3 separate regions of the Homo sapiens genome follow, and all the other regions are linked to region 1. The links come from fine-mapping of genetic effects on gene expression. A gene starts in region 1. Each other region holds a variant in brackets. All regions are shown on one strand. Distances are between the middles of the regions. Region 1 holds the start of TENM1 (teneurin transmembrane protein 1). Region 2 has its middle 24 kb from the start of TEX13C. Region 3 has its middle 53 kb from the start of TEX13C.

What was found. PIP is the estimated chance that this variant, and not a neighbour inherited with it, causes the effect. A credible set is the group of variants that fine-mapping cannot tell apart.
Region 2: its variant is the best candidate, but not a certain one, in a credible set for the expression of TENM1 in blood mononuclear cells (TOPMed, PIP 0.54).
Region 3: its variant is the best candidate, but not a certain one, in a credible set for the expression of TENM1 in whole blood (TOPMed, PIP 0.75).

Annotation. Positions count from the first base shown.
Region 1 is chrX:125,199,978-125,210,353 of GRCh38, forward strand. TENM1 (teneurin transmembrane protein 1) reads right to left here and starts at 4,335. Exons shown (of 35, transcript NM_001163278.2): 1 at 3,827-4,335. LOC124905211 (a long non-coding RNA gene) reads left to right here and starts at 4,483. Exons shown (of 2, transcript XR_007068314.1): 1 at 4,483-4,722; 2 at 5,065-8,143.
Region 2 is chrX:125,290,735-125,301,110 of GRCh38, forward strand. No RefSeq gene overlaps it. Among named protein-coding and RNA genes, the nearest start is that of TEX13C, 24 kb to the right of the region's middle. The variant G/T (reference allele first, on the strand shown) is at 5,183.
Region 3 is chrX:125,262,125-125,272,500 of GRCh38, forward strand. No RefSeq gene overlaps it. Among named protein-coding and RNA genes, the nearest start is that of TEX13C, 53 kb to the right of the region's middle. The variant A/C (reference allele first, on the strand shown) is at 4,512.

The DNA.
Region 1 (10,376 bases):
ATACATTATATAAATTGCCATAACAGAGCACCGAATACTGAACAGACACCTATGGTTGGTCATCAAGGTTGTTAAGAATAATTAAAAGCTGTGTGAAGCCTTTTATAGCATTCACCTGCTCAAACTAAGCATGGTTCTAGCTGGTTATATTTGATATTTACTTTCCTCTGTTCTAAAAAAAATCAATGGAAAACAGAAAGGAATAAAAATAATATATTAAGCCAGGATTCAGAATATTTTTACCTTTTAGGGGAAGGAAAAATAATAGCAATCTCCATTCAAAGTAGTGATTTAATCTAACACTCAGAAGCTGTAGAAGATTTAAAGAAATTGTGGTATATGTGAGCATTTCTGAAATTTGATTCCTTTTAATTTTTATAATCAGCAGTTACACTTCCAGTCGTGGGTATATGCTGTTGGTCACAATTGCTAAATTCTGTACCTTACAATATTTTTCATCTGCCTGTAGTCATACTAGGAATCCAGTTTAAACCTTTCTTCTAAATGTTAAGTGATGGGAAGCTTTTTAAGTACGCATGGATTATTAATTTTGTGGTTAAAATCCACAGCAATTTAACAAATATATATAATTTTAATAAAGCTATTGTACATGTTTTATATCTGATTCAAGGCATTCACAAGCAATTGCTTCCGTGTGTGTGTGTGTGTGTGTGTGTGAGAGAGAGAGAGAGAGAGAGAGAACAAATATGAGTACTATAAGAAAATTTGTTTTCATCAAAAAAATTAATCACTGACTCAGTTATTCAAAGTACTGGTCTTCTTTTGACCTCTGGTCATTTATAAGTAAGTAAATAAATAAATGCATAAATAATAATAATTAACTTGTTTTGGGAAACTTTAGGGAATTTATTAACCATAATCTATACCAACTACTTGATAGCTTTACTTAAATCTGAAACTGAATGACTTAGGAAAAGCAAGCTTCAAGCAAAAATTATATGGACTCCAAATGTCTATCTCTAACATAGAATATGAAAAATGTTTGTTTTATTAATTAACACTAAAATTTCTTACTACTTCCAAGTTTTTAAGGCTGTCACAGAAAATAAATTTCCACTAAGTTTTCTGTTTTCAGAAACAACATATCAGGAATGTTTTGCAGTTTGACAATTTAAAGTAATATTGTATAGAATAAACTTGAATGCTAGACTGTTCTGCTTCAGCAAGAATCTTTCTGGTAAAGGTATCAGAAAGGATCAATGACTATGAGGGAAACTATGATTATGTCGGTGTTATTTACACATATAATAGCTGAATTGAAACACTGAGAATTCTAGGGTATTCAGACTGAATTAGGCCTTTGAATGTGATGATAGTTATGTATAATACAATTTTATTTTAATACACCTAAACGTTTGAATATTTGAAATCTTAATCACCTTTACAGCACAATGATTCTACAAAGCATTCTTTCCTTTAGCCTCACTGTATATTTTGTCAAATGACATGACTGTCCCTAATTCATAATTGGAACCTAAACCTAATGGAAAATACTACTTCATGTATGCAAAAATATTTGTGGGGTTTTTTTCTGCTATGTATAGCTGACATTGTTCTCAGGACTGGACTCTACTAGTTTTATTATGAAAATGTTAACATTTCTTCATAGAGTTGTTTTATAGAAACACCTGTTTTTCAGAAACATTCTGGGGAACAACCTGAAAACTTTTAAATAATATTTAGAGCATGGATTTATTTTAGGAATTACCTGATCCCTTTTTAAATGCATATTTCGACTTTCTTTAATCATGAAAAGTTTTCAACATTATTTTGTCATACCTGAAAGCTTTTAATTACTCTTAAAAACCCCAACTTTGCCATAGTAAATTATTTAATGCATCACAAAATAGTGTTATGAACTTGAACTAAAATGGCAAAATTGGGATTCTGTTTCTCCAGTTATGTACTTTGAGGGTCTTACTATGCCTTATGAAAATTCATTTTTCCCCACGTTGCAGATATGAAGAGCAAGGAGCGGGGGTGAGCAAGCAAGCAGATGCTGGGTAATCATGGAGCAGAAGTTAAAGGTGTGGATCGCCTTTTCATTAATTTTGTTTTTTAAGCCTTTCCCTCTTAGACTCTTCCCTTTCTTGGTAACACTGGAGTATCTACTGCTCCAGATCAGAAGACTTCGGACTAGGAAGATGAACTGGGCTATTTCAGCCAAAAAATATAATAGAGCAGACATTTGCCATGTTCTCCTCAAACACGTTAAGAGTAGCAATTGATTCTCACAGTACATTGTTACCTGGCTTGTTAATTATAATCATAGAACAAGAGTCTAAAATTCAAGGAAGCTGTCTGCGACACTTACTCGTCACAAACGCGATCAATTAAACGCTAATCTAACAGTACCTATTAGAGTGCACTGGGATGTTTCGTTTCCTTTTGGTCTTTAAAACCAAATGGCTACTAATTTCCTTTCTGTAGCACTGAGAACTTCTCTTTGTATTTCTTTGGGCCACCTCAAAAACACCTCCAGGTTGGTATCCCAGGAAAACAACGGTTAAGTTCAGGACGTTTACTGACCAATTGCTTCATATTGGAGATGTAGAGCTTTTCTACCCCTATTAGCATATCGCCAGTAGCAGTGATGCAGATCTGCTCAACCCGAAGCTGCCGACGGCGAGTACGAGCTGCAAACCAGCCCCCGCCCCCGCCCCTACTCTCCCAGTGGCGACACAGACGTGGAAACATCTACTAGTGGAGTGAGATCCTCTGTCTCCGCAATTGTAAACAACTGACTGCATCGGGTTCACTGAAATGTTTAAATACACTCCTGACTGCAAACACATCCACTCACCAAGTAGCGCTAACAATCTCCCCTTCTCCGCCTCTAGGCAAAGCATCCTGAAACTAAATTGGCAATCCTCCTGTTATGGAGTGGAAGAAAGTGAGGTTACATTTCCCCAAGCCTGCCTAGCGGGTGCTTGGCGCTCGCAGATATGCTGGCCGTTGCTGAATCTCGGGGACCAAGTCTCTGGATGAAATGCGGAAACACACAAACCCGCACATTGGAGCGCATGGTTAAAGTCAACACCGACGGCTCCTGGAGCACCGCCTGGGTTGTAATGACTATCTCTTTTGACAAAGATTGACAAAGGTATAGGGAGGACGCATCGGGTGGGGCCCTCGACGGCGGCGTAGGTTAGGAGGTCCTGCAGTTCCCCCGGGAACCCGGGCTCCCTGAGTGAGGCTCAAATAGAAATTCAGAAGCAAACAGGTACTAAAGTGCGTCCTAGCCCTTGGGCATATTCTCTGCGGAGACAGCAGGACCTGGACCCCAGTGGCAGAGCCCCAGGCGAACGCTCCAGGGTGGGAGGGATGCCAGAGAAGCGCCCCTTTCTTTCTTTTTAGACCGAGCCTCCCATCCTCACCCCAAGCACCCAGGTCCACTTGTTAGAGTGACTGGGCTCTGCGCGAGAGCCGAGGCGAGGAGGCTCCCTCTCAGAACTGAAGGAGTTGGTTGGTAAAAGTGCCGCCTGGGAAGCCCAGCGAGCCCTCGAAGGGCAGCGTCCCCAGGGCCCGCTGGAAGCTTGAACTGCGAACAAGGCCGACCTCCCTTCTGCCCCAGATGGTCCAGAGCCCCATGGCCGGCGGAGACCGGGAGAAGAAGGATGCGGAGGCTCTGCCACCTCGGGCAGGAGTCCCAGAGCGGACTCAACCGGCCGCTAACAGCCAGGAGCCGCCATCCGCCGCCTGCAGCCTCGGGGCGAAGTTCGCCTGTAGTCCTTGGGGTAGAAGGTTGGGGGTGGCGGGCGGGAGCGAGAAGGAATGGGGTGGGAGCCAGGAGAAACGCACCTACCTATTCCAAGCGCAAGTTTCGGCGGCGTCCCCAGGTGCTGTTCCCCCGCCCCCTCGCCAGGTGCTCGGCTCCGCCGGGCGCTGCCAGTGCCCGGGACTTAGGGCGTCTCGGCCGACTCCTGCGGGAAACGACTGTAAATCCACATTACTGTTCGAGCTGCCGCTCGGGCCCCCGCATTGCTCTCCTCCGGCTGCTGGCAGCGGTGCTCTAAACCGGCGGCCGCCGGAGGCAGGAACCGAACCTAGCTACTATTGCACCAGCGGACGACCGCTGCCAGAAGGGTGCTTGCGCCCAGGGTCCTATGTGTGTGCGAGAGAGTGTGAATACGTGTGTGTGTGTGAGTGAAAGAGAGTGTTCGTGTGTGAGAGAGCAGAAGGGGTGAGCTCAGCCCCCGGGGCACTCGGAGGTGAACTCCGGGCTGAGCCGAAGCTCGCCGCGCTCCCGGGTGCTGGGCGTCTGCTCGGCTGATGGCTGGGCTGATGTTGCCGTGGCCGCCGCCGCCGCGCTCTAAGGCTGGTCGCGGTGGTGCAAAAAATGTTTCTCCGCTACTCGAGACCAAAAAACCTGCCCTGTCTACTGAGCATGCCCGGTTTGACAGCTTCACAGCCGAGGTTTTTTTTTTTTTCTCCTTTTCCCCAAGACTCCAGGTTTTAGCCGCAGCTGAGATGGGAGGTGGAGGGAGGTGGGGGGAGGAGGAGAGGGAGAGGAGGAGGAGGAGAAAGAGGAGAAGGGCTTAAGGAGCAAGTATCGGGCAGAGGAAGGGAAGTCGCAATGAGAAAGATCAGGGTGTTATAGGGTGGAGAGGGGAAGGAGAAAGCTGGATATGGAAGCAGAGGAAGGAAATATGGATCAACAAAATTTAGATTTCCTACTACAGTGGATAGATGCCTGGCCAGGTGACTCACTCGATGTTTTTTTTTTTTTTTTTTTTTTAATTACTTTCTCCTGAGGGTGAGGGGTGGGGTGGGGGGTTCGGATGAGTATTTGTCAACCCCAGGATCAGCCTGGGACAGTGTTACCTAGTCATGACATACACAAACATCGCGTGCACACACACGCGCGCGCACACGAGCGCACACACAGGAGCACAATCACTGCTTCTATGTTCAAAGCCTCAGGACTGACTTAGAATGCGAAGTCTTTTGCCAGTATAACTTTGGCAAAAAAAAAAAAAAAAGGGCGGGGGGAGAGAAATTGTTTGGTTTCCTTTTCTTATTCTCCTCTCCCCCGCCTTCCAGAAAAGCCAAAAGCCCGTGAATGCGGTGCATAAGCGACCCACAAGCTCTCGTGCGTCTGTCGGTGAGAGTGCACCGCCGACTGCGTCCTGCTGACAGTGTGACCCCAGAGCGCCAAGGCCGGCCGGCCACATGCAGCCTACTGGCGGCGCATCAGATCAGCAGTAACGACGTCCACCTGAAGGTGGTTGGGGGAAGAGGGGAGCGCTAAGGGATCCTGCCCTGCCTGGCCGCCCAGGTTCCTGGGCTCCCTAAACGGCTCCGCCCCTCACCCAGCCTGGCACCAGGGCACGTACTCGGGCGAACCCAGCGCGCTGCCCCAAGCCCTGGATCCCTCCCTCCCTCCCAACCCTCCTCAGCTTCCTCGAAAAAGCGGAGAAGCGGAATCTGCACGCCCAGAAACTCGCGTCAGAAGCCTTAGTAGTCCGACTGGGCATGCTCGGGACTTGGGGCGCTTCGCATGGAGGCACTCTCCAGCGGCTAACATCTGTCCGACTGGGCCAGATGTGAGTCTGAAGTAGGAGGCTTGGATGCACGCTAGAGCAGGCTCTGGTTCCGGGAGGGGTGGCGGCGACGCCCACAGCAGTCTTCTTTCCGGCTTCCCACAGAGAGCAAGACCGTGGGAGATACCAAGTGCCGAGCCAGGGGAGCTGCACAAACTGGAGAAATAGGAGTCTAGCGGATTCCCAGGCCTCCTGCCCCGCGGTGCCACCCCAGCCGTAGGCAGGTAGGGGGCGCGCAGAGCAGCTAGGGAGCACCGCGTGTGCTCCCAAGGGACTGCTGACCTCTAGGTAAAGAAAAGAGAGCGTGAAGAGTCGAACATTCTTTGGGCGAAGGACGTTTACTGATTTTTTTTTTTTTAAGTAAAGAAAGAAGGGCGTGTGTGAATGCGTATATGTGCACGCACGTTTTAAATTTTCCTCCGCAAGAACAGGGACAGGAGAGCGAGAAGCTATTGCCGAGTTGGGAACCCGCTAGAGGTTACAATAAGGCAGGCTTGGAGTCGTGGCTGGTGCTAGTTACCGGGAAGAGTTCCTCTTGGCGCGGTGGGCGAACACCAAAGCTTCCAACTGTTCCCTTCCCTGGGTGGCGGCAGCTGCCCAAGGTCGGCTTCCGGGCTGGTCTCTGTGCTCCTGAGCAGGGGGACCAGATTCAGTTTCAGAAAGAGAGGTAGTACAGAGTGACGCCAGGGGGAGTTCTCTGAACCGTGTGTTCCCATTTTCCCAGCTTTTGATATAGGTATTTGCAAAGAGGGAGCATTGTAAGACCATCACACCACCAAGGGGAGGAAATACAAAGAGCTGAACACTCTAGGGGGAAGAATCAGGGAATCAAGAGCACGTTTATTCCCATCGTCCCTTCCCAACAAGGTCTTCAGCTTCAGGCAGGAATCATTTGGATCCCTGCGGCTCAACACCCTCCCACTCCCGTCCCGCCCCACCGCCCTGCCAACAAAGAAACAAAAGATGACAACCAGGCTCTGTAGGGGCATAGCAACTGCTTCTATCACCGGCTCTCTGTTGGGCTGTTGAGAAAGCAGTAGTGAAAGGATGGGTATAAAACCTGTGTCTTGCCACAAATATGTAAACGAAACCTTCCTAAAACCCACTACCCTCCTACAAAACAAAAACAAGTTATTTGTATAAACATATATAGATTTAAGTATCCTAAATAAAGATTCCACATTATGAACTGCCCAAACCCTGAACTGTGGAAGGAAGACTTTCAGGATACCTCCTCAATCCTTACCAAAGAGTTCTGGAAGGAGAAAAAAAAGAAACATCTGGCCAGTCACTTCTCCAATGACTGGAAATACTCTGGGTGTTTCCGTAACCAGCGATTAAGAAAAGAACTCCCCATAACAAAAAGGGAATTCTGGCCAAATGGGACATGGACAAACCCTAATGACCAAGGAAATGGAATATGAATTTAAAAGCATGATTATCTCACTCTCATTCTTGCTGTTCCTTTGTTACTCTTCTTGAAGATACTGGCAGAAAGGGAGAGTTGATACTTAGGGATTTCATGAAAGGAGGCCGAGTTTGTTTCTCTCCTGGCAATTCAGCAGTCCCTGTAATCATTTTTTTTTAGAAATTCTCTACCACCTCCTCTTTATGCTGTATTTTCTCTAGCATTCTTCCCTCTCATTTCCTTACTGGTCTCCTGTGGCTCCCTGGTGTCCTTAATTCATTTGGTCTGCACCTGTCTCCCTTTAGTTCCTTCAAAACATTGTTTCCAGTCCTAATTCCGAAGTACAGAGGGCTCTGTCACTTTTCTCTGTTTCCTAAGAACTGATTTGCTGCTTCTAGACGCCTATATCCTGATATTGTAGGTGGATTTCCTAAGGCATTTATTCAACTTTAGAGATTCCCCAGACACATTTAAGCAACATGAAATTGCAGAATTTTCAAGTAGTTTTGCTCATGGGACCAAGAATTTCTATTTCAAATATGAATATCAGGAAGAAGACACACTAAATTGCTAGTTTCAGAATAGCCAATGTAAATATAACAGATTGTAATGGAGCATGCAATCTCTATATGACAGTTGTCCAGTTGCCAAGTGTATATTATTAAAATAATTTGCTAGGAATTTTAAGATATATACCTTTTTGTTAACAAAGACACACACACACACATGCACTCATACACCTTTTTATGTTTATTCCCAAAACTAATGTAATTACATAAATTCAATTCAGCAAGTGATTATGGAACATCTACTATATTCCAGGAACTGTGCCAGCATTGGGAATAGGCAAAGAAATTGAGACTTAAAGAAGCTAAGAAATGTTCAAAGATGTGTGAACAATTTGCTAATCAACAAGTATATACTGTGTGACTGTTACCGTGTATCTAGACTATTTCACTCCTAGAGAACAATATTTAGATGTTCTGGCCTTGATTTTTTAAATATATTTTTAATCTATAGGTTGCATTCTGTGAGAAGAATGCATAATGGAAAATATGACATGTCAGTTTTGTTTCTAAGTACCCTCATAATAAGAATGTAAGTACAATAATATTTGTATTAGTCTATTCTCACGCTGCCAATAAAGACATACCTGAGATTAAGTAACTTATACAGGAAAGAAGTTTCATTGTACTCACAGTTCAGCATGGCTGGGGAGGTCTCAGGAAACTTACAATCATGGTGGAAGGGGAAACAAACATGTCCTTCTTCACATGGTGGCAGCAAGGAGAAGTGCAGAGCAAAAGGTGGAAAAGCCCCCCATTATAAATCCATCAGATCTCATGAGAACTCACTCACTATCACAAGAATAGCATGGAGGCAACCACCCCTATATTCAGTTACCACCCACAGGATCTCTCCCATGAAACACAGAGATTATGGGGACTACTATTCAACATGAGATTTGGTGGGAACACAACCAAACCATATCAATATTAGAAGACTAAAGTCAATATCAATTACATAAACAAAATCAATGTGCACCATCTGAAATGAAGGAGTTTTGTTTGGTTGCTTGTCTAATGGCAAGATGTTTTCAAAGGCATAATTTCAACATGTACTCGTTGTGGTAGACTATTATTTCCTATTTCAACTGATAACAACACCATCCAGAGATCAACTAGCAGAGATTATGAGTAGTGCTGGCACCTTAACTTTTGGCTACAATGATTGGAAGCAGGAAAGGTAGCTTAATGATTTTCTACCCAAACAGCTTCCATAAACAGGGCTGTAAAATTGCAGTCACCAGCTTGCTGCAAGGGAGTGCCCATTTCCGGCCAGCTGTGGGCTCCCCCTGGGGAAAGCAGCCACCTTGGAGGAAGCTTATTTGAGCCTGGATATGAACAGTTGGTGGCCAGGATTCTGCATCCATCTGTTCAGAACAGAGTCAGACACACTATTTTTCACATACCCAAGTAAGGCTCAGGAAAACAACTGGCAAGCCAATTAAAGTCTTCTCTTTACCTAATCCTATTTAGTATCCAAATGGACCCTGTGGAGCTACTTCTCTGGCCAGAGTGCGAAGGAGAAACAAAATGCCTTTAAAAAAAAGTTTGGGCTTTAGCAAGGCACTTTGTATTCCACACAGCAAGTTCTGCTCATGGAAGTGTACATTCATATATAATATCCCTCACTGGAAAGGCTCCATCAATGCTGCTTTACCTTACTCTCAGAATAAAATACATCCCTAATACAGACTAATCATAACCTTCAGAAACCAAAGCTTCTCAATAGGGTGCAGTGGCAATTCATTTGTATTATTGCTATAATGGATTCAAATAACTGCCTAAATTTAAATTTATAGATAGTTTTAAAAATGGTACCTTGGTCCTTAATTTATATAAAATTCACTTATATTCACTATCCATACACATAAACCAATATGGCAATAATAATAATTTATACCCTCATAAAGATAACATAGTGCCTTCCCTTGAAGATCTGAAAGCTGACTTAATGCTAGTGTTTGTCTTTTTATTGGAAATACTTTTAAGAATATTACTTTTTAGCATTTTTTAACTATCACAGTTGTTGAAAAGGGGAAAAAAATTGATTTCAAAATGTACCGTGATTTCTCCTTAAGAGATAAAATTACACTCCAGGAAAAGAACTTGAAAAGAGTATAGAACAATTAGTATTACTCGGTTGGCATTTAAATGCACTTGAACTTCTCTCTAACTTTGTGACCTCATTATCATAATCTTTTAAGTGAATTATTGTGATTGACTTATACAGGTAACTACTAATTTGTATTGAAATAACTAAAATATTTAGTGCTTCTAAAACACATGCTTAATAATGGCCATAAGAAGACTTTTATAGTCACATACATTAACAATTACTAACAAATGCTAACAATTATTAGGATAGTCCTTCATAAGCAGATTTAAAAGGCATTTTAAATGAAAATTTGGAACTAGGATGTTATCATTTTCCATACAACACAATAAACATGAATAATTTCTTCTCAGACTAAGAAAATAGGCTCCCCGTATGTATCTTCATTCTCTCATTTATACTTTCACTAAGTAAAGATTTACAGAATACCTGCTATGTGCCTATTCGGTGCTAAGTACTGGGAAGACAGTGGTAAACAAAACATACATATTCTTGCCCTTGTAGAGTTTACAGACTACTGGTAGGAGACAAACAGAACCAATCATACAACGAAATATGTAGTTCTAAACTGATGGGTGTTCTGAAGGAACAGAACAAGGTATTTGCAAGAGAACAACAGAGGAGACCCATTTCAATTGAGGTTGAGGTGGTTGGGTAGGCATTCCTGAGGCAGTGGCTATTAATCTGAGGCCTGAAGAATGTGGAGTAATTGGCATTCCAGGCAG
Region 2 (10,376 bases), 91 kb after region 1:
CATATGCAGATAAGAATGCAGAAAATATAATTAGAATTTGGAAGAATTATAAATGAAAATATAAATGTTTATTTTCAAGTGCTTTTGCTCATATTTAAAAATTCAGTATTTGGAATTTAAAGGTCTCTGCTTATTTTAGAGTTATTCCAAAATAACTGGGAATGTCATGGTTCTAGTAATTTTTTTTTAACTAGCAAGACAAATATGTCTAAAGAAGGATTAAGCTTGTTTGTTGATGTGGAATTGTCAGTAATGTGTTTAGGGTGGAAATGTATTTCAATTTTTTGGTGCCTTTCCTTGAAAACTATAGAGTCTTCAGAGGCGTTTTCCCTAAGGGTCATACCATGTAGCTATCTTAAAGGGAAAAGAACTTTATAAGTAAGTACTTCTGATGCCTAAGGAATTAGTACCCTCATACTAGTACCTTTTTATATGGTTTAATTTTCCATCTCACAGTAACCAGTTTTATGTCATATGGGGAACAAATGCAGGGTCATTCTTTCTTTTTAGATTTGAGACAATTATCTGTACTATTTAAGTAAAAAGTAAACTGTGTGCTCCAGAGTGGCTGTCAATATTGACTAAATTGACAGAGCAATTACTCAACTTTCTATTTCATTTGCCTTTGTACACATAGCCACAAATCAACTGGCTCAGTTAACTTACTCTGAGGAATTAATTTCCTTTGAAAACCTAACTTTTTAGCATGGTACAATTTAATAATAAAGTAGAAATATTTACAGTGGGCAAACTTTGAAAATAAGTATAAAATTAAATTTGGTACTCAGATACTTGATATAAATTATGGTTATATTCATTTCAACCATTGCAATGACTCAAGCAGATTTATTCATTCAACAAGCATTCATTGAGACCTAATATGTGCTTTTCACCGTGCTAGATCTGGGGACACAATATAAAATATCATGTGTCAGCCTTCAACAAATTCATAGTCCAGTGGGAAAATCAGACACAGAAAGAGATAATTATACAACAATATGGTAAGTGCAGTGATAAGGTTGTATAAAATAGTGTTTCAAGAAAATTAATGTAGTGGCACCATGTAAAGTGCATTTGAGTTAAGAATATGACATTAGTAATATAAAGTAAGTATTATTACTATTCCTTTTTTATGTATAAGGAAACTTCAGAGGCTCAGAGAGATTCAGTCATAGTCTGGGATCACTGAGCTTACACATTCATGTGTTTATTCATTGATACATTCATTCATCAGAAACGATTCTGTAAGCCACGAACAGAGCAGTGATCAAAACAAACTGGATCCTTTCCTTATGGATCTTATAATAAATCCAAAAGTGCTCTGAGAATTCAGAGAAGAAGAAGATAATGCTACATATTTGAAATTTTAGAACGTGCAATTATACATTAAGAGGCAGAGCTAACAGGCTGGGCTCATCCCACTTGTCTGAAATGTAGTTCTTCTATGTTCTGCCAGCCAGGCTATGGAGTATGGAGTGGGCTTTCATGATGTTTATACATATATGGGCCTGCAGCATTTACTGAGTTATATTGTCTGAGTGGAATTTAAAATACATCATGGCTGTATAAACAATGTGATGAATAACATTAAAAAGTTAATTCTAATTAAAATCCCAGGGGTAACTAATTAGCATATGAAATGTCTTTATCTGAAGCAACACTTGGGGCTAATTAGCAGGTGAGGTATCTTAAATGAATACATCAACTTAGGGTTGGCCAATTTGCACAGGAATGTTAAAAATATTTTTTGATTGGAAAAAATAACAGTATTTTAGATATGTGATTGTCTGTGAATAGTGCAAGAGGACCAACCTCATTGGTATGAATAAGGTGTTGGAAATCTGCAAGGTGTTGGAAATCGGAAGTCTTGTGTCATAGGTACATTCCAGGACTGAAACTTATTGGTCTTGCATCTCCTTTTCACTGAAAATCTTACCCCTTGATAGGACGACAAGCTTCCACATTCTGCCATTTAGGTGAAAGAATGCAATTGCATTTGTTTTAGAGTAAACTTTTTATGCAAGGTGGACTTAAGGATAGAAAGAGGGGCCTCTTTTATCTATAAACAGGTTGTGAAGAAATGTGAGTACCTTTGTTGGAATTTGGTCTGAGGATTGTTTTCTCCTCATAGCCAGGTTTTTAGGGTTAAGGACAGATAGCCTCTATCTGTTTTTTAGTTACTGGTGAATACTAATTTTTATCAGAAAGACCTGACATTCACAGAATCACGAAAACAGGCTCAAGCCTGTTTGTTGTGGTGAAGAATTCATTGCCAACTGGGAACCAGAATCCACAATTCCCCAAATATCAAACTATCCATGATCAGAATGTTGGTGGTCAGTGGGAAGGAAGGAATTTATGTTCTTGAGGAAGAATAGTCAGCTAATGGTCGTATGGTTTCTATCCTCTAGAGAAAGTTAGAACAGAGCAACAATACTTTGCTTTTATTCCTGAATGCTTCACAAAGATGGTAAGGGTTCATTATTTCAATCAGCCAATACTTACTCTTTTCTTATTAGTCAACCTTGATTATATACTGAAATTGACTTTATAGGGACCCCGTCTTAGTCTATTTTGTGTTGCTGTAACAGAATACCTCAAATTAGGTATTTTTCTAATCAATGAAAATATTTTTAAAAACTTTTTATAGAGACATGGTCTCTCAATGTTGTCCAGGCTAGTCTTGGACTCCTGACATCAAGCCATCTTCACGTCTCAGCCTCCCAAAGTATTCAAATTACAGGCATGAGCTAACTCCACACAGCCATGTAATTTGTAAATGATAAAAGTGTATTTGACTCACGGTTCTGGAAGCTGGGGAGTCCAAGAGCATGGCACCAACATTTGGTGAGGGCCTTCCTGCTGCATCATCCCATGGTGGAAGGTGGAAGGGCAAGAGAGCATGAGAGCAAAACAGCAAGAGGGAGCTAAACTCGCTTTTGTTATAAGCCCCATCTAGAGATAAAAGAACTCATTTCTATGATAATAACATTCATCCATTTATGAGGGTGGAACCCTTATGACCTAATCACCTCTTATTAGTTCCTACCTCCCACCATTGTTACTTTGGGGATTAAGTTTCCAACATATGAAGTTTGGTGAACACATTCAAACCATACCAGACCTCTAACTTCTAACTGGTTGTAGATCTTGATGAAGACATTTCACAGCACTGCACTCAGTTTTGCTAGTGGTTTCCAAATTTCTCTCTCCTATCATTTGTTTTGCAATTTAACCTTTTCTTTTTACATCACAGTTCTGGAAGTTGTGTAACCCTAGACTCAGGCTAACAAGTAATTGAGTAATTGTGACACTGCTTTAACATACATAACCATTATTTCATTCAGGAAGTTACCTTTTCCTTCAGTCTATCTGAGGAAGTAGCCCTGGCTGCTCATTACTTCCTCCTTATGCTAGTCTCATCACTTTTTGGAGGATTTTATCAAAGAGATTATAAACAGACAAAACTTGATGACTGGTTGAATACTGGGAGTCATTTTGAAAGAGCAGTTAAATATAATGCCTAGGCTTCAAACCTAGGATTCCTGAAGTATATTAGTACCATTAATAAAAATGAAACTGAAAATAGGACCTGGCATAGCAGTCATCTAGAGTAAGTGAGACTGTATCTTATAGATATTATTTGCAAGTTATTGGACTAGAAGTGAGAACAAACTTCCTGCAAACATACTGCTTAATGAGTTCAAGAACTAAGGCTGTCAAGGTTAACATTACTTTACTATTTCAGGACATTATTGCCTAGGAAAATAAAGTTGCAACAAGGTTTTTATCTGAACAATAAGCTGATCAGTTAGCTGCCCTGCTCAAGGCAAGAAGTTACTCATCAGGGTAAATATCACCATTCTCAGGATGACAGATCACTCAATGTGCAAACTGCTTGCTTATCAAATGATTACTCATCAGGACACTTCAAAATTCTTGCTTTGCTGCATTCACCAATCTAAAAATCTGTGTTACAACTTTTTTTTCCGATTCCAGGCAGATCCCTTCTTTGAAAGACCTTCCTTAAGACAAATCCCAAAACTGTATGAAGATCTGCCCTTTCCCTTCCCCTTCCAAGACACTACTAAAAGTCTATCAAGGTGGTGTTTTCTCTTAATACAACACAGAATACATTCAACTTTGTCAGATCAACAAGATATTTTGGTGGTCTTTTTAGGGGTCAGCAGTCATAGATGTGATAGTTAAAGCTATGAAAATAAATTAGTTTTTTTTAGGGATACGCATAGCATGAGAATATAAAATGGCCTAGGAGAATGCACACAGAAAGTGAAAGGAAGAAGATGAGCCAAAGAAGACTATAACAAAAGAGAAAAACAGGATATTATTATAATTTAGAGCCAAGAAATGAGAGAGAACTTCTGTATTGGTAGGGTGATCATAATTGTCATGCATGAAAGGTTTAGAATAATGAGAATTAAAAGGAGACTGTGAAATTTGTTTAAAGGAAGTTTAGGAAACTTCAAAGAGAACAGTTAGGCATGGAGTGGATCTTTGGTTATTAAATGTGGCCAGTGGGTCTATACTAAATCTAAAAGAATTTAACTGAGAAAAGAAAGTGAAAATACATTACCATAGTTGAAAGAATCCCCTAAATCAAATTTGGCTTAGTGAAGCTTCCACTGGACTGGAGATATTCAAGGTAGTAGAGAAATGACGTAATGGTGCAAATGATTTAAACCAGACTTAAGCAAATTTTTTCTGTCAAGGGCCCTTCTGTCTGTGTCACAACTAGTCAACTGTGCCATCATAAAGCCAAGGAGGTAGCTAATACATAAATGAAAGAGTGTGGGAGGATGTGTTCCAATAGCACTTTGTTTAAAAATTGGTTGGCAGACTAGATATGACTCATGGACTGCAGTTTAAAGACCAGTGATTTAGACTAAGAAAGTGTTATGAAATAAAAGAAGTCTTTTGCAATCCAAATAGTCATGATAGTTGTCGATATTAAATACATTAACTGGACTTGAGCAACTATTCACAGTGTTTATAAAGAATGCCTGAAATTGCAGCTTCTGAAGACAGCTCTTCATTTTTCCCTAAAGAAAAATATTACAGAGCTGAAGCTGGCATATGATCTGTATGCATCTTGATCACCATACTGGATTATCCTACACTGAAATAAATAAGTCTTTGCGTGACACCACATTTTGCATAAAAT[G/T]TATGTTTCCTAAATTAATAGCTTTTGTCAACTTAGAATTTTAATCAATGCATGCTACTTTGTTATTCAAATCTCCTGAAAACGAGAATAGAAAAAATTAAGATAATTAATACAAATTAACAAGATACTTAAGTTAATCCATTGAGTACTTCCACATTCACGTTTAGACTTACATAATATTAATGCCCTAAAAGAAGTTTGGATAGTGTTATTCTGAATAGGGAAGTAAATGACGGAAAAAGGATATTGCAATAGGTGTGGCTTGTGAAGCTCAACTATAGAAGTTTTAAAAATTTACTTTGTAATTCATTTTAACTTTAATTATCTATGAATCACGCACGTTTCATAAACTAGATGCTTGCAAATAATGTGTTTTGGGGATTGATATTATTGTCAAAGTGGAACTAAATAGTGATATTTAGTAATAAAGTTACAACAAAGTACTATATGCATTATAAACTAAATAATGAAACCATTTTTAAGATTAAGAAGTCTAAAAAAGGTGAGGTGTCTATATAGCTTTTTTATGTTTATTTAATCATGTTTAATCATGAACATGCACAATCATAGCATTTTATGTGCCTTTTATTTATTATAGATTACACTGTTTTGATTACTTAATCACTTTCCCTTTTCTTTAAATTTTATTTTTAATTGATGCATAATAATTATACATATTCATAGGGGACAATGTGATATTTCAATACATGCATGCACCGCATAATGATCAAATCAGGATAATTAGCATATCCATCATCTCGAACATTATTTTGACTTAGAATTAAGAAAAAACAAAACTTAAAATGTACTACATTGCAACATATAGGCCAAGTACTTTATATTGCAACACTATATTTTGTTTTCATAACAAATCTTATAAGTATTATTATTATTGTCATACTACAGGTAAGAAAAGTAAAGCACAAAATGATTATTAAACTTTGTAATAGTAATGGAGTTACTATTACAGTTCTGTCATAAATGGCAGAACTGGGACTTGACACAGTTCTATCTGACTTGAGTTCCCAATCACTAAACTACCCTAATATATCATCTCTGAAGAAAACTATTAGAGATAGGGCTGGGAAGTGCAACAATACAACTCATTAAGTAGTAAGTGTCTAGTATATGCCAGGTTCTAGTCCCACACTGGATATGCCAGATTTCCTATGGAAGAATTTTTTTTTTGACAGAGTCTCCTTGTGCCACCCAGGCTGGAATGCAGTGACATGAACATGGCTCACTGCAGCCTTAACCTTCTGGGTTCAAGTGATCTTCCCATCTCAACCTCCCAAGTAGCTGGGACCACAGATGCACGCCACCACAGTTTGAGTAATTTTTAAATTTTATTATTGTTACTTTTATTATTTTTTCTGTTAAATAGAAATAGGGTCTCACTATGTTGCCCAGGCTGATCTTGAACTCCTGGCCTCAAGCAATTCTCCTGCCTTAGCGTCCCAAAGTGCTGGGATTATAGGTGTGAGCCACTGCACCCGGCCTGTATCTTTTTTTTTTTTTTGGTAGGGGGCGGGGGGAAAATTCTTTTACCATTCAATAAAAGTTAAAATATGATTAAATATATAAACACTGAACATTTCAAGATCCTTTTGTGAATATAAGCTAGTAATACAAAGTGTTTTACCTCAAACTTATCACCAGCTGAGTGATTTCAACAGGACAGCATGGGATATATCAGAAATATCTGAGAAGTCCTTCTTTGTGAACTAGACTGTGAATTCTTTAAGAGAAGGAGGACTAGGATGTTCCTCACCTTTGTATCTGTAATGTCAAATATAATGCCTATCACAAAACACAAAATGCTAGATGCCCAGGGGAACCAGTCTCTGACCAGTCACTTACCATTTGTGTAGCCTTGGGCCAATATATCCTGTTTCATTATTTGTAAAATATGGTTTTCTGCCAGGTAATTGCAAAATCTGAAAAAGATATATATTTTTTTCTGTTATGCAGCTTCCCATCTAATGTGTGGAAGACAGAAACATATTAATACTTATCCTGTCTTGCTCACAGAATTGGTGTAAAGGTGAAATGACATACTGTACATATATTACACATTATAAAATTCTCCACAAAAATTAGTATTTTAATTTTGATCATGTATGGTAATTCTATCTCAATTATTCTTGAATTATTGCTGTTGGCTATTCAGAGTTTCTATGATATGTTATGAAATGCTCACAAATATAAAGTTGTTATCATCCATCTATTAGTTTGGATTATATTGGTTGCAAGAGAAATCCAACTCCCACTAGCTTAAGAGGGAGAAGTGAATATATTAAATACATGTAGAGTAGCTCTCCTAATCAAGAAAGAAAGAAAAAAAAAAAGCTATAAGGACAGGGCAGCTATAGGAATCTCAAGTATGCAAAATACAATTTCAATCCTATGGGTCTTTTTTTTTTTTCTCCCTTTCTCTTTTTCTCCCTCTTCTACCCACTATTGGTTGCTTTGAATGTTAGTTTCTTCCTTTCAGCCTTCTCCACTTTGTGGAGAAAATGGCCTCTGACACCCATAGAGTCATATTCTTATAGTTCCTTGACATCCCTACAATTCCATAACTACAGGGAAGAGAGACACTTCCCTACCACATTTAGCTGAATAATCCCGAGGAAGACCTCAGATCGTTCTGGCTTGTTCATCCGTGGGCCAATCAGTGGGATCATACAGCTGGGTTGCTATGATGGTCTCAGCCTAGGTCACAGGCTCACTTCTTTTTATAAGATATGGGGCTGGGAGAATATCCTGAGCATGACAAAAACAGTAACTACCACAATACCATAGCTTCATTTGCTTAATGCTATATCTATTAAAATACAAGTTTATTGATAGGATAACAAAGATCATCTCTGTTTCTCTTATTCTATGGTAATACTTGCAAGCTGGATCGGCTACATAATTTGCAAGGCCTAGTGAAAAATGAAAATATGAGACTCTTTGTTCAAAAAGAAGAAAAATGTGTAGTTTAGGGTATTAAAATATAAAACTTTTTTTAAAAAATATTTCATTACTTATAAACTTAATGGGGTAGATACATGAATAACAAGATGAACTTAATGCAAAGAAAATAATATTTTGGTGTAATAATTTTATATAATATAATAAATGATTTTATTTATTTATTTATTTATTTATTTATTTAATTTATTTATTTATTTATTTATTTATTTATTGAGACAGCGTCTTGTTCTGTCACCCAGGCTGGAGTGCAGTGGTCTGATCTCAGCTTACTGCAACCTCTGCCTCCCAGGCTCAAGTGATCCTCCTACCTCAGCACCCCAAGCAGCTGGGACTACAGGTGTGTGCTACCATGCCGGGCTACTTTTTCTATTTTTTCTAGAGACAGGGTTTCACCATGTTACTCAGGCTGATCTCAAGCTCCTGGGCTTAAGCAATCAGCCCGCCTTGGCCTCCCAAAGTACTGGGATTACAGGTGTGAGCCATCGCGCCTAGGCAATCGTACTTTATTAACATGACATCTTGATCCGTCAGAAGATTTTTCTGGCTCACTTTTCTGTACATTTATTTATTAAAGTCATCAAAATACACACTTTTAGCCACTTAAATTTCAATTGCTATAATTGAAAGTGGTGTCAGTTGCTCTTGGCAAATACAAGAATGCAAATAATTTTTGATAATTTTTAAGTTTTTAGAAGGATCTTTCTGCTGATACCACTGTTAAGAGTATTACATAGGCTATAATAATATTGAGATGATTTCTGATAAATTAGGTCTAAATATAAGTTTTAGTACATGTGGAATTTATATTTCTTGCAGAACAATTTTTCTAAAAAGATTTAACTCTTCATTCAAATCAATTTCATTTAAGACTAAATTTAATTGTAAATGTAAATTTATATGATGGAATTTTAATGTTTTCTCTGACATTTTCTGTAATTTGAGAAGGTGGTAGAAGAAACTGAAAGTGGTTTCATGATTTATTTCCAATTCAAAATGGCTGTTTATGCATTCTATTGCTATATATTCAATTACAAAGAAAAACAATTTTAAATTTTTCTTCCTTATTAATAATTGATTAATGTAAAGCCTCTAATAAAAAATTGTGTTCTTTAAATTTAATTGCTATTACTAAGTCCATGGATATTCATTCTGTAATGTTGCAACCGTTTTCAAATTTAGAAATTCTATACACTTTAAAGAATTCTAATAATTTGTTGATATGTTTTATTGCAATGTTCATGTGTTTATTTTTGTTTTGTAGTAATTCACTGGCAAAGTTTACTGACTAAGCTCTGGCAGTTCCTGCCCAGAGTTAGTATTTATACAGATGCTGCAGGGATGCGATGCCAGAACACGCAAGCTTATCACCCATCTTGAGTCCCAGCATTTTCCTTATATGGAACCCCTCCTTTTTCCCAGGATGCAACTATTCCTACCACCACTGGTATTTCTACTGCTGCTACCAGCAGAGCTCGATATCTGGGCTCAGGTCATGGCCTAAGATTACTCCCTTAGGTCCCTGCAGACCCCTAACCTGTCCCAGGCCAGTGTGTGTGTCTCAGGCAGCCAAGCTAACTGCTCAACACTTACTATGCTCCTGGGTCTGAACTTGTGGTGTGTATGCTGCCACAAGGCATATCTTCTCTGCTCATGTGCATATTCCATTGTTCTATTGGACTTCACTTTCAAAACACAAAGTCAAAGGCCGAATTATTAAGAATTTCATGATGGTTAAAGCAGAGTATGAAGTTAAGTGTGGGGCTCCTTCCAAGATCAGGCCCCGTTTTCTCTACAGGTCTCATGCCCATTTTAAAAAGGAAAACTGCATCACAATAAAATTTTAAAGAGTTTATTTGAGCAAACAATTCATGAATTAGACAGCTCCAAACCAGAAATGGTTCAGGAGCTCCACTGAGAGAACATAATGGGGAAGATGTCATAGGATGGGTATGGACGTAAAGCAAAGAAAATATTTGATTGGTTACAGTTACACAGTTGTTATCATATTTGGTTTATCATGTTGAGAAGTCCCAAGTTATATAATTATAAATCTGTTGGTTGCTTCTGATTAGTTAAGCTTAAGTTTTTCTTCATTATAGGCATTTTAAATAAATAGTTCAAGTTAAGCTTTTCTTATGTTTTCAAATATAGCAAGGTTGAGGTCACTTATGAAGCCTAACTTGCTTTGTCTACTCAATGATTCTTCAGGCCTCAT
Region 3 (10,376 bases), 62 kb after region 1:
CTTTTGTAGAGACAGAGGTCTCACTGTGTTGCCCTAACTGATCTCAAACTCCTAAACCAAGGGATCCTTCCACCGTGGCCTCCCAAATTGCTGGGATTACAGGTATGAGCCACCATTCCCAGCAGGAAACATATTTATTTAAAGGAACCCTAGTCAATGACCACAATTACAGTAGAACAATTAGAACACGCATGTATTTTGTTTTACTTATGGCTCCATGAAAGTATAATTTATTATTTCAGCATTTCACATCATAGAACCTGACTCAGAAAATACATTCATTATTTACCCTTTTATATGTTGATGATGATAATCAAGGCAGAAGCCACTTATGAAACACATTTTAGCTTTTAGTGCTGCAGTTTAAAAAGAAGAAAGATTTTTTGCTTGGTACAGTCATTAGCTGAAACCATCAACAGCAATGTGTTATTGGCTAAATAACAAAGCAAGAATTAGAGCTATAATCATTTAGTCAAGATGCTCATGATGTTTAATATTTTATCATATATAAAACATTGATCTACAACTAAAAGATGAGAGGATTTGCATAGATACACCTTAAACATTCTGCCTCCCATTGACTGAAATATCTTTATTGTACATTTCATTCTACCTTATGGTTTTAAAAAATCTAGTTGGCCACCTGTTTTCTTACATTTATTATACTTATAATTTTTCTTTATATGATAATATTTGGAAGATATAGTACTTATTTCGTTTTTTAATTCCTTTTGCTGGATGAAACTTGCTGGTATACGTCATGATGAAACAGGAACTATTCCTTGACCCCTTTCATGGGACTCAGGACAGGGATGCCTTGCTTACTCAGCCTGCAGCTCTCAACCCCTCACAGGAGGGGGAGCATGTAGAGGAGTGGGTGCAGGAGCTGGAGCGAACACTTTTGGGTGCTGGCAGGAGCAAAACTCTGTGCTGCCCCCGTCTAGGGAGGTGCCTGTGACCCCTGATGCCCCAGAGGGCATGTGTTACAGTGCTCTTTTAGCTTTGCTGTCCACAGATGGCTTAAGTGTTCAACAGCTCAGTGGACCCTCTGCCTTTTTGCAAGAGCAGAGGGTCCGTGTGACAGCTTTCTGTATCCCGAGCTCTTGTCTGGTGTCCAGGAAAAATTAGTTCACATGAAGGATAATAAATGCTGGGGATTTTATTGCTGATGGAAGTGGCTCTTAGCGGGATGGGGAGCTGTAAAGGGGATGGAGTGGGAAGGTATCCTTCCCGTGAAGTCCAGCCATCTCAGGCCATACTCTTCTCCGAAGTCTCGCTGAGGTCAAGCTGCTTCTCTCCAATGTCAAGCCACAGTCTCTGACATCCAGCTGTTTCTCCTCTTTTCCCCTTCTCTGCTCTCTACTGGTGGAGCCTAGGGTTTTTGTGGGTACAGGATGTGGGCTGGGGTGGGCCATGGGAGGTATTGGAAAAGGCAACATTCAAGCAGGAAAACAAGAATGCATGTTCTCACTTTGGGCCATGGTTCCAGGCTCCAGGGTAGGGCTTCTCCAAGGGTCCCATCCTTTTCTGCCTAGAATTTTTCTGCCTCCTGTCCCTATCAATAAGATAATATATAATAATACAATAATTATTCTAATATAATAACACCTTCACTATGGCCATGTCTACCATTTTTGACAGTTAACGGCTCAGTTTCAGAAGAAACAGACTGGCTTACTCAATTGTGGCATTATATTTATTTATTTAGCCATAAGAAAGTCTATCTGGGGCTTATCATGAGAAGTTTGGGGTTTGCATGTGTATCTAGATATTTTAAACTATGTTTCCTAGATCATACCTAGGAAACAGGGAAACAGTCAGTGGAATCAAATAAACCACTATGAAAATACTAATTTTCGTTCACACCTCTGTATGTTTTATTTAATAAATTATGAGTAAAGCCTATTCAATTATTAATCTGGAAAATAATTAAATCAACAGTAATTTTTAACAACAGCAAATAGAAATAAAGCTAATTTTAAAAGTTCATCAATAAAAAGAACAGATTTTGTAGCAACACATTACAAACGGACAGGATTTAGGATGTTTCTAATTACTTTTAAATCTACATAGGCATTAGTTATTTTCTAAATTCAATCTTTGTTTACATGCACCCTCCAAGATCATGAAATGTGAAAAAGTGAAAGTAGGATTCTGCATATATAAAATTGCTTTTCATACTCAGATTCTGTGAATTAGGTGGGGTGAGGATAACACTCTTGGGAAATTGTGTTAACAACTTATTAATTTGAGTAGTACATGATCTCAACAATAATGAAGTTAATGACTCTCTATACTTATTTGATCAGTTACTGTAGTTCTCTTTTCATAATATTTATGTGCTTCCAAGATATAAATTAGTTTCCTGGTTTCTAGTTATTAATAAATATTTATTTGATACCTGATATTTAGTATTATATGCATGCATATTAATTTTAGCCTATGATAGCACTTGCTAGTATACTAAAGTTACTCTGGCTTTCAACAAAAGTGTTTATGTGAACATCAATACTGCAAAAATAGCCATGACTCACAGAAGAGTATTTAATCTTATGGAGATGACAAAGGCTCTCTTTAATAAACCTTTAATAACTCCAGGTGAGATTACATATAGATGTGATGAATGATTCAATAAATGTTATTTAATAGATACACTCTGTATCTAATCCTATCTTGGGATATTAGAGGGATAAAACATGGATGGGAGTGAATGTTGAAGACTTGGAAAACTGTCAATATCCTCAAGGCACTTAAAATAAAATTGGAAAGAATTATAAATTAGTGATACAAGATAGAACAAAATTGAGTGACAAACTGTGTGGTACAGATAGAGATGGATTTATGATGAAACTAATGAAGCTTAAGATTCAGGAAACCCTTACTAGAATGGGTCCCTCGAAAGACCCTAATGGGACTGTATCAATTGCTATGACTTCCAAGACATCACAGACTGGTTGTATTTTCCCACAATTTTGGAGGCTGGAAGTCCAAGATAAAGAGGTCAGCAGGGTTGATTTTTGTCTAAGGTCTCGCTCCTTGGCTTGTAGATAGCCATCTTTTCTGTGTGTCTTCACATGATTTTCCCTCTGTGTGTGGCTCTGTCCTAATATCTTATTCTTACAAGGACATTAGTCACATTGGATTAGGGTACACCCTAATGCACAACAGAGCACTAGTGATATATTTGCATCATCACATGGTTTTGCAAAATTTGTAAAACTAAGATTGTTGTGGTTTGGCTGTGACCCACCCAAATATTGTCTTGAATTCCCACATGTGTGGGAGGGTCCCAGCGGGAGGTAATTGAATCATGGGGGCTGGTCTTTCCCATGTTGTTCTCATGATAGTGAATAAGTCACACAAGATCTGATGGTTTTCTAAGGGGGAGTTCCCCTGCACAAGCTTTTTGCCTGCTGCCATCCAAGTAAGACATGACTTGCTCCTCCTTGTCTTCCACCATGATTGTGAGGCCTCCCCAGCCATGTGGAACTGTGAGTCCATGAAATGTCTTTTCTTCCCAGTCTTGGGTATGTCTTTATCAGCAGCATGAAAGTGAACTAACACAGTAAATTTGTACCAGTAGAGTGGGGCACTGCTGAAAAGATACCTGAAAATGTGGAAGTTACTTTGGAACTGGATAACAGGCAGAGGTTGGAACAGTCTAGAGGGCTCAGAAGAAGACAGGAAAATGTGGGAAAGTTTGGAACTCCCTAGAGACTTGTTGAATGGCTTTGACCAAAATGCTGATAACAATATGGACAATGAAATCCAGGCTGAGATGGTCTTAGATGGAGATGAGGAACTTGGTGGTAACTGGAGCAAAGGTGACTCTTTTTATGTTTTAGCAGAGACTAGTGGCATTTTGCCCCTGCCCTAGAGATTTGTGAAACTTTGAACTTGAGAAAGATGATTTAGGGTATCTTTTGAAAAAAATTTCTAAGCAGCAAAGCATTCAAGAGGTGATTTGGGTAATGTTAAAGTCATTCAGTTTTATAAGGGAAGCAGAGCGTAAAAGTCTGGGAAATTTGCAGCCTCACAATGCAATGGAAAAGAAAAACTGATTTTCTAAGGAGAAATTCAAGCCAGCTGCAGAAATTTGCATAAGTAATGAGGAGCAGAATGTTAATTCCCAAGGCAATGGGGAAAATATCTCCAGGGTATGTCAGAGGTCTTCATGATAGCTCCCCCCATCACAGGCCCAGAGGCCTAGGAGGAAAAAATGGTTTCATGGGCTGGACCCAGGGTTCCCATGCTGTGTGTAGCCTAGGGACTTGGTGCCCTGCAACCCAGATGCTCCAGCCATGGCTGAAAGGGGCTAATGTAGAGCTCGGGCCATGGTTTCAGAGGGTGCAAGCCCCAAGCCTTAGCAGCGTCCATGTGGTGTTGAGCCTGCGAGTGCACAGAAGTCGAGAATTGGGTTGGGCACCTCTGCTTAGATTTCAGAGGATGTATGGAAACTCCTGGATGCCCAGGTAGAAGTTTGCTGCAGGAGTAGGGACCTCATGGAGGAC[A/C]TCTGCTAGGGCAGTGCAGAGGGAAATGTGGGGTCAGAGCCCCCACACAAAGTCCCTACTGGGGCACAACCTAGTGGAGCTATGAAAGGAGGGCCACCATTCTCCATACCCCAGAATGGTAGATCCACTGACAGCTTGCACTGTGCACCTGAAAAAGCCACAGACACTCAACACCAGCTGGGGAAAGCAGCTGGGAGGAAGACTGTACCCTGCAAAGCCACAGGGGTGGAGCAGCCCAAGACATGGGAACCCACCTCTTGCATCGGCATGTCCTGGATGTGAGACATGGAGTCAAAGGAGATCATTTTGGAGATTTAAGATTTGATGGCCCTGCTGGATTTCCGACTTGCATGGGGCCTGTGGCCCCTTTGTTTTGGCCAGTTTCTCCTATTTGGAATGGCTGTATTTATTGAATACCTGTATCCCCACTGTATCTAGGAAGTAACTAACTTGCTTTTGATTTTACAGGCTCATAGGTGGAAGGGGCTTACCTTGTCTCAGTTGAGACTTTGAACTGTGGACTTCTGAGTTAATATTGAAATGAGTTAAGTCTTTAGGGGACTGTTGGGAAGGCATGATTGGTTTTGAAATGTGAGGACATGAGATTTAGGAGGGGCCAGGGGCAGAATAATATGGTTTGGCTGTGTCCCCACCCAAATATCATCTTAAATTCCCAAGTGTTGTGGGAGGGACCCGGTGGGAGGTAATTGAATCATGGGGGCAGGTCTTTCCCATACTGCTCTTGTGATAGTGAATAAGTCTCAGGAGATCTGATGGTTTTACAAGGGGGAGTTCCTCTCCACAAGCTCTCTTTTTGCCTGCTGCTATTCATGCAAGACATGACTTGCTCCTCCTTGCCTTCCACCATTATTGTGAGGCCTCCCCAGCCACGTGGAGCTGTGAGTCCATTTAACCTCTTTTTCTTCCAAGTCTTGGGTATTTCTTTATCACCAGTGTGAAAACAGACTAATACAAATATATATATATATGTATATATATATATATACACACATATATATATATACATATATATATATTTTTTTTTCCAAAAAAAAAGAGGTTTAATGGACTCACAGTTACACGTGGCTGGAGAGACCTCACAATCATGGTGGAAGCTGAAAGGCACGTCTTACATGGCAGCCGGCAAGACAGAATGAGTATTTTTAACCAATATCTCTTTTATATTTTCTCCCCACTCACTCTTCCTTGCATAGAATGGGACTCAAGTGACAACAGGCACATTAGGGAACTGGCTCAGAAGAAGTTCAGTTGGAGATTATTTAGTCTGACTTCAGTAGGATATATCTACATGATCCACAGTCACATTCATGTATAGTTATTATTACCTGCCCCAGGGTAGGAGTGGCTTCCACAAATATTCCTACCACCTTCTGTGCATACAACATGAAGATGAAAACCTGGAGTCACGTTGTGATATGAACAACAGCTACAGCTTCCAGCACTGGAAATATGAAGATAGTAGAGGAATAGCAAGATCTGAAATGTACAAAGCCAAAAACCCGTCTATGCAAAAGTCTTCCCATCATTAAATGTATAAAATTATAAAAAGAGGATTAAGTTATCCTGAGTCTAGTCAAATGTTCTCTACAGTTAGTATTACACTCAATAATGTGATTATAAAAGAACCATTTAAACTTTTTTATGGAAATAATATAAAATATAATTTATGCAAATTTATGTGATTGTAGGGCAGAGATTTATAGAAGTATGACAAACAATAAATATGTTTATTATGAAGTCATGTTTTATTATTACTTATTAATAATAATAGAAAAAGCACCAATTCTGATCAACTATCAAAGGTCTTTTTATGAATTTTAGCATCTATTGATTTGACCATATTGTCCTTTATTCTGTTGATATGATGTATCCCATTGCTTGATTTGCATATGTTGAATTATCTTTGCATCCCAGGGATAAATCCCACTTGGTCAAGATGAATGATCTTTTTCACATATGGCTGAATTTGGCTTGCTGTATTTTGTTGATTATTTTTGCATCAATACTCATCAGAGATATTGACCTGCAGTTTTCTTTCTTTGATATGTCTTTGGTTTTGGTATGAGGATAATAATGGCCTCATACCATAAGTTTGAAAGTATTCCTTCCTTCTCTATTTTTTGGAATAGTTTGAGTAGAATTGCTATTAGTTCTTTTTTACATGTTTGGTAGATTTCAGCAGTGAAGCCATTGAGTTTCAGGCTTTATTTGAACAATTTTTATTTCAACTTTGATCTTGTTATTTCTTATTTGTCTGTTCAGGTTTTGAATTTCCTCATGGTTCAATCTTGGTAGACTGTAGGTGTCTAGGAATTTGTCTATTTCTTCTATATTTTCCAATTTAATGGCATGTAGTTGCTCACAGTAGCCACTAATATTCCTTTGAATTTCTGTGTATCAGATGTAATGTCTCCTTTTTCATCTGTGATATTATTGATTTAGGTCATCTCTGTTTTTTTCTTAGTCTGGCTAAAGAACCGTCAATTTTGTTTATCTTTTCAAAAAAACAAACTATATTTTATTGATATTTTGTATTGTTTTATTCATTTCAAAATTATTTATTTGTGCTTTGATGTTTATTATTTCATGTTGTCACTAATTTTGGATTTGGTTTGCTCTTGCTTTTCTAATTCTTTAAGATGCACCATTAGGTTTGTTTTTTAAGTTTTTCTTCTTTTTTGATGTAAGCACTTACAGCTATAAACTTCCCCCTTAGTACTGCTTTCACTATATCCCATAGGTTTTGGTATATTGTGTTTCCATTATCGTTTGTTTCAAGAATTTTTTCCATTTTCTTCTCAATTTCCTCATCGACCCACTGGTCATTCAGGAGCATATTATTTAATTTCCATGTGTTTGTATAGTTTCCAAAATTTCTCTTGTTATTGATTTGTAGTTTTATTCCATTGTGTTCAGAGAAGATGCTTGATGTAATCTCATTTTTTGAATGATTTAAGGCTTGTTTTGTGACATAATATATGGTCTATCCTCGAGAATGATCCATGTGCTGAGGACAAAATGTGTACTCAGCAGCCATTGGATGCAATGTTCGGTAAATGGATCTGTTAGATCCATTTGGTCTCTAGTGCAGATTAAGTCAGATGTTTCTTTGTTGATTTTCTGTCTGGAAGATCTATTCAATGCTGAAAGTGGAGTGCTGAATTCTTCAGCTACTATCGTATTGTGGTCTATCTCTCTCTTTAGCTCTAATACTATTTGCTTTATATATCTGTATGATCCAGTGTTGGGTGCATGTATATTTATAATTGTTATATCCTCTTGCTGAATTGACCCTTTTATTATTATTATATAATGACCTTCTTTGGACTTGGACATTTGGGTTGATGATGGAATCAGTTAAGACTTTGGGGGACTGTTGGGAAGGTATGATTGTGTTTTGAAATGTGAGAACATGAGATTTGGGAGGGGTCAGGGTTGAAATAATATGGTTGGCTTTGTCCCCACACAAATCTCACCTTGAATTGTAGTAATCATAATCCTATATCTAGTAGGAGAGACCCAGAGTCCCCACTGGTGCACTGCCTAGTGAACTTGTGAAAAGAAGGCCAATGCCCTCCCCACCCTAGAATGGTAGATCCACTGACAGCATTTTATGTTGTCAGTGTTTGGAGTTTTGGCCATTCTAATAGGTAATGTAGTGGTATCTCAGTATTGTTATAATTTGCATTTTTCTTATGAAATATTATATTGAAATATTTTCACATGCTTCCTTGCTATCTGTTTATCTCTTTTGTTGCAGTATATGTTCAGGTCTTTTACCCATTTTTAATCAGACTTTTAATTTCTTATTCTTGAATTTTAAGAGTTCTTTATATATTTTGAATATTTTCTTATGAGGTGTGTCTTTTGAAAATATTTTCTTCCCATCTGTAGCTTGTCTTTTCATTCTCTTGGCTTTGTCTTTTGCAGAGCATAAGTTTTTAATTTTAATGAAGTCTAGCTTATTAATTTTTTGTTTCATGGATCATGCCTTTGATGTTGTATCTAAAAAGTTGTCATCATATCCGAGGTTATCTAGTTTTTCTCCTAAGTGATCTTCTAGGAGTTCTATAGCTTTACATTTTACATTTAGATCTATGATGCACTTGAGTTAAGTTTTGTGAAGGGCACAAAATCTGTGTCTAAATTCACTTTTTGGTATATAGATATCCAATTGTTTCACCACCATTTGTTGAAAAGACTATCTTTTCTCAATTGTATTGCTTTTGCTCCTTTGTCAAAAATCAGGTGATTATATTTATGTGGGTCAATTTCTGGGTTCTTTATTCTGTTCCTTTGATTTACTTGTCCATTCTTTCACCAAGATGACACTGTTTTTATTACTGTAGCTTTATAGTAAGTCTCAAAGTTGGGTAGTGTCAGGATCCTGATTGTTTTCCTTCTTCAATATTGGGTTGGCTATTCTAAGGTTTATATGGAAAGACTATCAGAGTATATGACCTCCCCATGTAAACTTTAGAATAAGTTTGTCAATAACCACAAAATATCTTGATGATATTTTGACTCGTATAGCATTGAATATACAGAGTTGGAAAGAACTGGTATCTTGACAATATTGAGTCTTCCTAATTATGAAAATAAAATAGCTCTACATTTTTAAGGTTCTCCTTTGATATCTTTCGTGAGATTTTTGTAGTTTTCTTCATATAGATCTTGTATATATTTTGTTAGGTTTATATGAAGCATTTCTTTTTTAGGGATGCTAATGTAAATGGCAATGTGTTTTTAATTTCAAATTTCTCTTGTTCATTGTTGGTATGCAGAAAAGTGATTGACTTTTCTGTGTTAACCTCATATCCTGCAGCATTGCTAAAATTGTTTATTAGTTCCAGGTTTTTTTTATGATTCAGATTTTCTACACAGAAGACCATGTTGTCTGTGAACAAAAACTATTTATCCCATCACTATATGTATATATTTTCTTTTCTTGTTTTATTGCATTAGCTAAGACTTTCCACGTGATTTTGAAAAGGAGTGGTAAGAGAGGAAATCCTTGTCTTATTCACGATCTTAGTTGGAAAGCTTCAAGTTTCTCACCAATAAGTATGAAGATAGCTCTAGGTTTTTTGCAGAGGTTCTTTATAAAGTTGAGGATGTCCCCATTCCCATCTGTAGTTTGTTGAAGGCTTTTATCATTCATGGGCATTGAACATTGTCAAATGTTTCTTCTGCATCTATAGATAAGATCATTAGATTTTTCTTTTTCAATCTGTTGATGTTATGTAGTAAATTAACTGATTTTAAAAGGTCAAGCCAACCTTTTATACCTAGGAAAAATCCGGCTTGTTTGTGGTGTATGTCTTTTTACATGTTGTTGGAATCACTTCTTAGTATTTAATTGAGCCTTTCTGTATCTGTGTTTATGAGAGATATTTGCTTATGGTTTACTTGTAATCTTATTGTCTGATTTTAATATTAATTTTGACATCATAGAAAAAGTTAGGAATATTCCCTCTGCTTTCAACTTTTGAGGTAGATTGTAGAGAATGTATATATTTATATATATAATACATATTTATTTATTATATATATTTATATACAATATATATTTATATAATATATAATTATATATAATACATATGTATATATTATATATATTTATATACAATACATATTTTATATTGTATATATTTATATACAATACATATTTACATATTATATATATTTATCTACAATACATATTTTTATATTATATATATTTATATATAATACATATTTATATATTATATATATTTATATGTAATACATATTTATATATTATCAATATTTATATATAATATGTATTTATATATTTTATATATTTATAAATAATACATAATTATA